Regions from separate parts of the Homo sapiens genome. Here regions 1, 2 and 3 are each linked to region 4. The links come from fine-mapping of genetic effects on gene expression. A gene starts in region 4. Each other region holds a variant in brackets. All regions are shown on one strand. Distances are between the middles of the regions.

Region 1 (2,688 bases), 68 kb after region 4:
TTTTTGATAAGCAACTCAGTGCCTTTCAATCAGTGGCTAAGACCAACTCGTTGAACACAATGGGATGGTTAATTAAAGACACATTTTAAATACACACACAACTCACAGATGTATGCAGGGACATGCATACAACTGTTAAGGCAGCCTGCTTTGGTCCTGAAGAATATAATTTGATTTACAGTTGAGAAATACAAACTAAACTCTGTTTGGGGAAAAATTATGCCCTAAAAAAATGACTGGGGTAGAAATACTGTATTTGAGAAATGAGAACTTTAAAACACTCCACTTTGTCTTTGTTAAAATGGGCGTAATAGAAGTAGAATTTTGCCAAGATGTTTAACCTTATTGAGGCCACAAAGTAGGAAAGGTTTCATTTTTAATTTTGCAAAACCCAACTTTCTTTCTTCCTCTTTATTTCCTTGTTTTCCTCCCATCTCCCTCCCTCCTTCCTTCCCACCTTCCTTTCTTCTTTCCTTCTGTCTTTTCTTCTATCTTTCCTTCCTTTTTTCTTTCTCTGTACTCTCCTGTCATAATCAAGAGTAAAAAGTTTAACTTTATGCATCTGAATACATTTATTCATGGATTCTTATTTAATAAAAATAGAAAAAAAAACACTCGTAAAGAAAACTCTTGGTGAGTTACAAATGGCACGCTTCCTTTGGGGCGCAGGAACTCAGGGTGCTCTTAAACACCTTGACATTTTCAGGACTTTCTGCCACCTGGGATTTAGATCAAAACTGCAGTGCGTGTCAGACCATCTCAGAACAAGGAATGTTTGTCTCAGACATTATTATGCCCTATCTCTTGATGAAAGACTGGGATAGAGTCAAATCATGTGTCTTGGTGTTTGTTTAATATTTGTGTTCCGCATTTATTAGCTGATGAGTTACTGGAGATTTGCATTCTTCTGAGTCAGCCAGTATGACCTATTTTATTGCAGTCTAAAGTTGTACTGAAGGGTGCCTTGGAAAACATGTTCTCCAAATGTTGGTCAAGACTGACATTCACAGAATTTAAAGCTGGATGTAATGTTATCCAATGACAGCTTCGGAAATATGATGACTCTGCAAGAAATCAGGGGAAATTCAGAATGGCTGTTAAGACCACTCCTAAGACTATCTTGACTATGTGAATTCTTTCTCCAGTTTTTTCTGTGTCATCCCAGCTTGCCATCTCTAGCTCCTGCTTCACAGGCCTCGAACTACCTCTCCAGTCCACTTCAGTGCCTTAACAGCTCAGATTTCACTTCCAGTAGTCTAGGGCTTTTACATAAATTAGAGCAAGAAGAGAATACAGTGGGGAGAACAAAACTGATTAAAAGGTTGGAAAAATAAGACTTATGAAGAAAGGTTAAAGGAGCTAGGATTATTCAGCTTGGAAAAGAGAAACTAGTGGGTGGCTTAATAAAAGTTTTCAAGTATATGAAAGGTTATTATATGGAGACTGGCGACCAGCTGTTCTCCTGC[C/T]GCTGAGAAGAGAACAAAAGGAAATTATCTTTAACTTCTGCAGCGGGGAGCTAGCTTGGAAATAAAGGATTTCCCAGTGGTGAGGTTTGTTAAACATTAGAATGCATTACCATGGCATCTCTTTTTCTGGAGATCTTTGGAAATAAGACAGGGACTGGTGTGGAAGGGATGGTTTAGATAGGTGGAGGCTTGCCTAAGTTACTGGAGAATCAACCAGATGACCTGTGGAAGCTCTTTGCTGGTCCTTTGAGTCTACACCAAGCCAACTGGACCTCAGCCAGAAAAGATATGGAGAAGAGCCAGGCTAGTTCATGCCTTTGACTGTTTCAGCAGAGGCAGAGCCAGTGTTCACCTTGTCACAGGCTTAGTTTTCTTGATATCTAATTGTTATTTGGTGGTAAGTAGTGATTGGAGCAGGGATGGGAAGGAGGTTAAAAAATTCAACCAGCTAAAACATACATAAGATCTCCCTCAAAGAATATTTCAGTGAGTAAGGGTGAGGCCTATGAAATATGAAGTGCCCTTGTAATTTTTTTTTAAGACTTCAAACGTTTTTCCTCAACACTATACCTTCTATGTGTTCATGTAAACTGCTCCTTTAAGCTTTTGAGATATAGAAGTGTATGTGTGTCTCTAAAAAATGGAAGAAGTGTTCCATTTAGTTCTTATTAATAAATGGATAAGGATTATGGGATTTTGGACTCAGATGGAATGTTGGAGAGATCATTTAGTTTAACACAGTGGATGAGTTTTTCTGGACTTCTAGGCTTAATAATCCCAAAATTATATTGCCATGACATAAATATAGTATTATACTTACCACAAGAATTTAAGTATAATATAATCATGTTAACAAAAACATCTCAGTGCATTTATTATTTTTGTCAAACAATATGTTAGTAAAATATTTTTCAAAGAATTGAACTCTGTTTTTTAAATTTAGTTCATTATTTAGACATAACCTAAAAGATGTTGACAATACATTCCTTTTTTTTTTTAGATTGAAGCGTTTTTTAAATTGTGGTAAAAAATTCCACAATATTAAATTTACTATCTTAACTTTTCTTTTTTTTTTTTAAATTGAAACAGGGTCTCACTCTGTTGCCCAGGCTAGAGTGTAGTGGTACGAACATGGCTCACTGCAGCCTTGACCTCCTGGGGTCAAGTGATCCTCCTTCCACCACAGCCTCCTGAGTAGCTGGGACTGCAGGCACATGCCCCC
Region 2 (2,688 bases), 73 kb after region 4:
AGCTGGATTTCTGGAATTCTGTGGCTGTGTGGTATTTTCTCCTGCATATTAATAAGATTAAATTGACCAAAAGGTTTCTTTTTTCCTTCAAAAATTTTCCTAATATTTTTAGAGTATGAAGATTATATAGCTTTATTGTAAAAATATTCAAGCAGTATTGAAAAATATAAAGATCAATAATAACAACAGTCCCAGAGATAACCACTAGTAGTATAACATATTGGTGATCATCCTTACAGATGACTCTCATAAAGATCAATACTAACAACAACAATCCTAGAGATAACCATGGGTAATATAACATATTGGTGGTCATCTTTACAGATGATTCTCAATGCATATATATTCACATATAAATATATATAAGTAAATATATACATACTCTTACAAAATGAAAAAATACAATACAAACTTTTGTAACCTTTTCCATACTAATCACTATAGATCTACATCATTATTTTAATGGATGCATTATATATATTGTATATAGAATACTATCTGGCACTCAGTAGGCCCTCAACCAATGGTTGAATGAATGAGCAATAATTTATTTAACCAATCTTCTATTAGTGGACATAATTTATTTTCTGTTTTTCACTATTATAAATCACATGGCAATTAATATGTTTTTGCATCTTCTTTGTTCACATGTACAATTATCTGTTTAAGGAAACCTTAAAAGTTGGGTCAAAAGGTGGAAACATTTAACAATTTGATAGTGATAAACTTGCTGAGTTGGCTGAGTTTATGCTCAAGTCATACAAATTTACATTATCATCAGCAATACACAAAGGTGTTTGTTTCCGCACATTCCCCTGCATGCCTACATTGCTGTCAGTCTTTTAGAGTTTGCCATCCTGATAGAAAAATTGCTGTACTGGTTTTCCTTGCATTATTTACATTACAAGCAAGGCTGAGCATCTCTTTGTATATTTATTGGCCATTAGGTATTTCTTTTATGCATTGTCTGTTCTTTGTCCAGTGGTTTTGTCTTGAAACACCAGAGACCTATTTTATCTTAATGAAGTCATTTACTTTTATAATTCTATCATATGCCCCCAAACAGGGAAAGATGCATCTTTTAGGTGGGTATACTGATAAGTGAACTTGTGTGGACCCGTAGTTCTCATTTGTCAGAGGTAGCAACGTAGGGAATTTGAATATTTTTACCTCTAGGTCGGTGTCTTTTTTTTTTTGTTTGGAGATGAAGTCTCACTCTGTCACCCAGGCAGGAGTGCAGTGGTACGATCTCAGCTCACTGCAACCTCCACCTCCCAGGTCCAAGCGATTCTCCTGCCTCAGCCTCCCGAGTAGCTGGGATAACAGGCATGCGCCACCACACCTGGCTAATTTTTTTTTTTTTTTTTTTTGTATTTTTAGTAGAGACAGAATTTCACCATGTTGGCAAGGCTGGTCTCGAAATCCTGACCTCAGGTAATCTGCCTGCCTCAACCTCCCTAA[T/G]TGCTGGGATTACAGGCATGAGCCACCGTGCCCAGACCCAGTGTCTTTTTGTGTGAGGACCACTACTAAAGTTTTAAGAGATTTCTTAAAAAGGCAATCGTCATTCTGAGGCAAAGATTACCAACATCTGGATTCCAAAAAGTGGGGAAAAATCAGTTATTCATATATATTAAAATGACACACTTCATTTCCAACTACCAAGTACAATGTTCACCTTTATTCTGTTTGTTTTCGCTTTGTCGTGCTACTGAAATATGTGTGCATGTGTATTTAACCAAAGAGAAACTCACTCCTAACCCCATATTTAGTGGTGGGACCATCCCTTATTTAGTGAGGCTGTTTTTTTTCCCCCCAGACCCGAGTTGTTGTTGCCCATGCTGCTGAATTCCCAATATGAATAAATCATAATCATATGATTATACTAAATCAGAGGTTTCAGTACCCTTCCACAAAGTGACAATAAAATGCTCATTAAAAAAAAGAGTAGGTTGTGTTCAATGGTGTTAATTTAAAATTTTAATGCTCAGGCCAAAATGCCAGAAAGTGAACCTCAGTTTCTTGGTAATAATAAGGTGAACTGGCTTCCAGCAGAGAGATTTTGTGGCTTCTGTATCCTGCCGCTGCACTTCTCCCTTCTCCAGCCTCCTTTCTATTTGGTGGTGCAGAATCACCTTGGTCAGCCCTTTGACCTTGCCTGGAAAAAAGTCCTCATCAGTGAGTGAGTGTGAGGTTAGAGTGATAAAGATTCTAAAGGAATGCCTTGTTTTGATTCAAATAGTTGGATTAGTCACAGAGTTACTTAATCCACACACATAGTAGAATCCTCCAGCAAGCTTCTTTGTTTTCATCAGAGCTTTTGAGAGATTATTATATTATATCTCTATCTTTTAAAGATAGAGTAGAAATCCATCTATGAAGAATAGTTTTAGGTGCATTCCTGCCTGAACACACATTTGGACAGTCTTATAATTATGTATCTTCCCGAGATGCATTTTGAGCCATTTCTACCCAGAACTTAAAAAAATATTTCCTATGAGTGCTGGAGGTTCTTGCTTCTCTTAACCCACTAACTTTTTGAAGCCATAAGAATATCTTATTAAGGATTATGCAAAATAACGTCCTACAAATCCTGATATTATTACACTGCCCAAAAAACTTCAAAGCATCAGGAAAGTGTTGTGTTTTTTTTTTTTTTTTTTTTTTTTTAACTAAACCAGATTCAGCTGG
Region 3 (2,688 bases), 600 kb after region 4:
ATTGAGTCCAATTTTTAGTTTTATAAATAATACCATGATTTTTTTTCTAATTTCAACATTCCTTAGGACAGACATCTAGAAATGAATACTACATGTGGTATTGAAAGTTGGCTTAGCTCTGCTTTTCCCACTGTCAATGACAAAGAGAAAGGGTGAGTCTATGTCACTAGAAAAGCATGAATGCATCTTTTGGCCAGACTCTGACCCCACACCATGGGGGTAGTTAGTTTGGGTTGAAGTAAGCTGCTATAACAAAGAGACCCTAGGGTATAGTGGCTTAAATAAGTTGGAAACTTTTTTCTTTCTCACTTTACCACTCAGGTGTGAATGGTTCAGAGCTGATGGGGAGGCACTACTGACATCCTCAACAAATGGCTTCCATTTCTGTATCCAAAGTGACAATGCTTGTTCTTGCTGTTTTACAGACACTGGGAAGGGATAAATGATCTGGAGAATGTATGCCCAATTGTTTGAAGGGCAAGACCCACAAGTGGAGTACATCATTGCAGGTCACATCTCATTGGTCAGAATCTAGTCATTGGTTTTATCTAGCTACAGAGCTGATAGAAAATGAAGTAGTTACCTGGACAGCCATGGGCTCAACTAAAACCGGGAGAAGAGATCTGGGAGCACAATGAATGGATCTGCCTCAGCTTCTAGCTGAGTTCTTGGAACCCAGAGGGTGAGCAACTGAGACACTGTGTAATTGCTCTTTTTTCCTATGATTTCTGTCTCCCTCAACGTTGAGCCTCTGAGATGTAAGCATTGGAAACATTACAGTCAGATAGTGAAAAGTTTGCTAATCTGACAAGGAACCAATGTTCATTAAACTCTTCAATGTGCATTTTTATAGGGTGTGGCCAAACCCGAGTTAGATAAGTGCAGATGTCACTAGCTACAGGTTCATTTGAACTCCACAGTTCAATTCCCGCCCCCCACCTCACTTCCCCTCTCCCTCTCTCTTTCTCATCCTCTACATTTCCTTTGTGCTTTTGGAATTCTCCTTTTTGTTACAAATAGGTACACAAGTAAAAAATTCAGGGGTTCAGTGGAAACAAACAAGTTTTAAAGTAGAATTTACAATGAGATGCCTGATGAACAATGGTCTATTCGCATAGCTGAAAGCTCTACTCACAAATCTCTTTCCCTTTTAGATTTGTGAGGAACAAGGGATTGTATTCTCTGCACGGGATTTTGCTTCTGGGCTAGGGTTGACTGCAAGTTTATTGGAGTGAGCACTATGTTTTGTTTTGTTTTTACCATAAGGGACTTCTGCAAAGAGCCCCAGTGCTCATCATGTGCTGTGAGAAAAATGGAGAGGGTTTGCAGAACAGTTCTTTCTCTTTGTTCAAAATTAGGTTCAAGCTGAGAACCACTGTGGATATTTCAAGTTCTGTTTTGGATAAAATAAGCAGA[C/T]GTGTTTGAATTAATTAACTTTGTAAGGCAACTCAGCACCGAGACTGAATTAGTGCTGATGGAAGGAGCACTGTTTCAGGAGTCCCAATACTTCTGTCCCAGCCTTGGCCTTGCCACAAAATCTTCATAGGACTATGGGAAAATACCCATCATTTCTGTGCTGTGGTTCCCCAATTACATAAATTCAGAGATACTTACAGTTCTAGAAGAATGATGCTATAGATACTGCAGTCTGCCTTTGTTATGGTAACAGGAAGACTGAGGTGAGCCTATGCCAATCCTTTCCTCCGCAAACCAGTTACCATCAATCATGCATTTCTTGGAGACCCCTGGGACCTACCCTCAAGCACCCTACATAGTAGATCCTACAATATTTTGTGGCTTAGATTTTATGTATGGGTCTGCTTCCCCATGGGCTTCTTAAAAACAGATCCTATTTCTTATTCATCTGTGTTGTTCCTGAAGTGCCAGTACTATGCTTGGCTAGGTACTGGATGCTTGATAAATACATGAAATAAAAGTGTACCTGATATCAGAAGGCTGGCTAGTAGCAGGGCGGGGTCAAGAATTCAGGTTTCTTTACTTCCACATCAGTCTTTCTCATGCTTGACCTCTCCCTTCCCTTAAAAATAAAGATAAAGATAAAGATAAAGTGTAATACCATGTGCCAGAAGTTCTTGGGCACTAGAGATGCTGGTGCAGAAAGAGATGACTGGTGTCCTCATCCTTTGCTCAAGATTGTTCTGCTTTTTCAGTCTCTTTGTCCTTAATGATGATTTATTCTCATAACATGTTTGTCTTCTTTCTCTCTCAAGAACCTCTGCTTAGAGTGGTCCAAGGAAGACTATATTGCAATGGGTCCCAGAGCACTTTGTAGGAGCTTTGATGCCAATATCAAAAGCCCAAGATGTCCACTATCTTAGATGAAGGCTAACATCTGCTCTCCAAGATGGAACCCTCACATGCTGCCATAAATAAGGCAGAGCACCTCATGCCTCTGAATTAGACACAAGGCACCAAGAGGCAAGTGCCTGGGGCTGTCGCCCAGGTCATCTATGCTTGACACTGCTCAGCCTGCTTACAAATAGGGTTCTTGCTATAGCAATCAAAATAACCACACAAGGCAAGTAAAAGGCACAGACCAGAGTCTGGGGAGGTTCTGAGTGGGGCTGATTTTAGCACACAGAAGGGAATGAGACAACCACAGCCACCGCAATGGGCCGGGAGGAAGGAAGGCTACTGTGGGTCACCAAGAGAAACACTTCCTTCCAT
Region 4 (2,688 bases):
GAAATAGCCACGAGAAGGAAATCGTTAGCTCGAAGCCCCATCTTTCATCTCACCCGTGAACACTCCTCCCCTTTGAGAAAGGACAACGCTGCGAGAGCAAATGACAAAAATCCCCAGAAAGAAGCTAAAGTCCAGCATCTTTCCTAAGAGCCCGCTACAACCTCAAAAGCCTGCCCCTGCCCCATCTTGGAAGCGCGAGCCGCGGCCAGTCCTACCTACCTAGAGACCTCACCGGGACCCAGCGCGCCGGGGGAGGGCAGCCAGGGCTTGGGAAACTCTTTCCTGGGGCACCTCACGCTTCAGCGTCAAAAGACAATATAGATAGATGGGTGCCGGGCGGTGGCGGGGGGGACTGTTGCCACGACCCACCGGAGGGACCCATGACTCCGGGTCCTGAATTTTCTGTCGACCTTAAGTTTCTTGTCACGAGATGACGGCCATCACCGGGTCGAGAAAACGGCGAGAAAAGGCGGCCCGGTTCGGAAATGGGGGAGGGGCGCGCGTCCAGTCCTCCTGTCAAGGAGCGGCCGCCTGCAGAGACCCCGCAGTGCGCCGTCCCCGGCTCCGGTCCCGGGCGGGGGGTCTTGCTGACAGATCCGCTGGGCGGCGGCTGCTCCGCCGCAGCCGGTCCGCGTCCCGCTCAAACTGCAGCTCCCCTCCCCCCACAGCCCCGTCTCTCCGCGCTCCCGCCACATTCCGCCCGCCGCCGCCCACTCGCAGACGCCCAAGTTGCCCCTAACCCTACTTCCTCGGATTTTTCGCGATTAAGTGAGAGTAGACCCCGCGCCCACTCCCTGCACCCACCACTGCCTGCGGGTCCCACCACTGCCACCTCCCGAGTCCCGCTCTGCTACTTCTTCAGGCTCTTACCGACTGCGCCAGCCTTGGCGAAGCTCCGCCGACTGCCCTTTGCTCCAAGTAATTTTTGGCGATTTTTAAAGTAATTTTTCCGGCGGAGTCATAGTGGCGCTATACTCTCGGACAGGTTATCCTGTCTCTCCCGCTAGATTGATGAGATCAGGCATCACTCGAAAATGGCGCCGAAAGCGCTGAGGCTCCTCATTCAAATTCGTTAGAGCCAACCCCGCCGCCCCAGGGAATGCCGGGAACGCGGGCTGCCTCCACAGCTGTCAATACCGCCTCTTAACCCCCCTTCTCTTGCTTTCCCGACATTTTTACGCATGCGCAAACTCCAACCCTCCCCCCTCCTCCCGCCAGGCACATGCGCAGAATCATCGTGGTGCACGGCTCTCCCTTTGCTTCTTCGGTTGCAGTCCTCTTGCTTCTTGCGCGTGCGTGTAGCGCTTTTGCAAAGCCGCGGAGGTGAAGTGAACTTAGAGGTTGTGGGGCCGAGGGGTCGTCTTATAGCTACCAGCCCACAGGCATTTAGTCTACGTTGGAGGTAAACAAATACGGGTCCTGCTTAGGAGAAAAGAAAAACGTCTTACAGCCAGTGTCTAAACTCCAAACAACGGAATGTATCAATGAGACCTTGTATATGGATACACGTGCATTTAAAACCGCCCTGCCGGCTTGTAGAGCTTTTGCCGTTCTCCAGCGCTTTACAGGGGTTATCGCACTTAAGCCTCGGAACAACTTTACCAGGTAGGAACTATTACTGTTCTCGTTTTGAAGACCAGGAAACCTAGGCTCAGAGACGTTAAGTAATTTGCCCAAGACAGCACAGGTGGCACAGAAGTGGATGAATCCACATCTGTCAGATTCAGCAGCCCTGGAGTTCTCTACCACGCTGTACGATTCAACCTGAGCCCACACAGGAGGCGTGGTCTCCTTCTTCAACGGTGTGTGTGTGTGTGCGCGCGCGCCTGCCTAGAGTTAATGATTAAGTTTGCTGAAGCCCTTCTTCCCGGTCCTAAGCTGCCTGTTGCGAAGGCGCTTTCATTGAATTCAGTTTCTCTTACCGTCTTAACTTGTTCATAAACTTTTTGAGATAGGAATGGGCAGTTTTTCTGTGTCACTTAGGATGATTTTTTTTTTTAATGGCGTGATAAGTGAACTGAATCCAGCAAAGACGAGTTTCTGTTGTGCAACACGTTGGTATACTGACAGCTACCACGTATTGACTGTGTACTGTGTGCTGGGCACTGTGCTAAATAAATGATTTACGAATTAATCGTGTTTATTGCTCACAACAGCCTTATGAAGTAGGTATTATCTTCACTTTACAGATGAGGACACCTGAGGTTCAGATTAAGAAATCTGCCCCAAAGTCTTAGAACTGGTAAGTAGAAGCACCATATCTAGGCAAACCTGTCTACCTTCAAAAAAAATGGGCACTCTGATAGGACAATTAACGATAATAAAGTTGTAATTTTTTTTTTTTTTTGAGACGGAGCCTCGCTCTGTCGCCAGGCTGGAGTGCAGTGGCGCGATCTCGGCTCACTGCAGCCTCCGCCTCCCGGGTTCAAGCAATTCTCCTGCCTCAGCCTCCCGAGTAGCTGGGACTACAGGCAAGTGCCACCACGCCCAGCTAATTTTTGTACTTTTAATAGAGACGGGGTTTCACCATGTTGGCCAGAAGGGTCTCGATCTCTTGACCTCGCGATCCGCCCGCCTCGGCCTCCCAAAGTGTTGGGATTACAGGCGTGAGCCACCGCGTGGAGCCCTATAAAGTTGTAAATATTTTAAAACCTTCATTGTGAATGTTAAATAAGAGAGTAGATATGA

Evidence for each region. PIP is the estimated chance that this variant, and not a neighbour inherited with it, causes the effect.
Region 1: its variant is fine-mapped to the expression of DLEU1 in blood mononuclear cells (TOPMed, PIP 0.91).
Region 2: its variant is fine-mapped to the expression of DLEU1 in whole blood (TOPMed, PIP 0.94).
Region 3: its variant is fine-mapped to the expression of DLEU1 in testis (GTEx, PIP 0.93).

What each region holds. Positions count from the first base shown.
Region 1 is chr13:50,148,453-50,151,140 of GRCh38, forward strand. All of the region lies in intron 2 of DLEU1 (deleted in lymphocytic leukemia 1), which reads left to right. Among named protein-coding and RNA genes, the nearest start is that of DLEU2, 24 kb to the left of the region's middle. The variant C/T (reference allele first, on the strand shown) is at 1,467.
Region 2 is chr13:50,154,149-50,156,836 of GRCh38, forward strand. All of the region lies in intron 2 of DLEU1 (deleted in lymphocytic leukemia 1), which reads left to right. Among named protein-coding and RNA genes, the nearest start is that of DLEU2, 30 kb to the left of the region's middle. The variant T/G (reference allele first, on the strand shown) is at 1,462.
Region 3 is chr13:50,681,964-50,684,651 of GRCh38, forward strand. LOC107984568 (a long non-coding RNA gene) reads right to left here. Exons shown (of 3, transcript XR_001750074.2): 3 at 1,758-2,038. Among named protein-coding and RNA genes, the nearest start is that of DLEU7-AS1, 120 kb to the right of the region's middle. The variant C/T (reference allele first, on the strand shown) is at 1,417.
Region 4 is chr13:50,080,953-50,083,640 of GRCh38, forward strand. It overlaps DLEU1 (deleted in lymphocytic leukemia 1), which reads left to right and starts at 1,217. Exons shown (of 7, transcript NR_109974.1): 1 at 1,217-1,605; 2 at 2,190-2,242. All of the region lies in intron 1 of DLEU2 (deleted in lymphocytic leukemia 2), which reads right to left. RefSeq lists silencers at 361-655, 519-738, 1,139-1,188 and an enhancer at 1,346-2,141.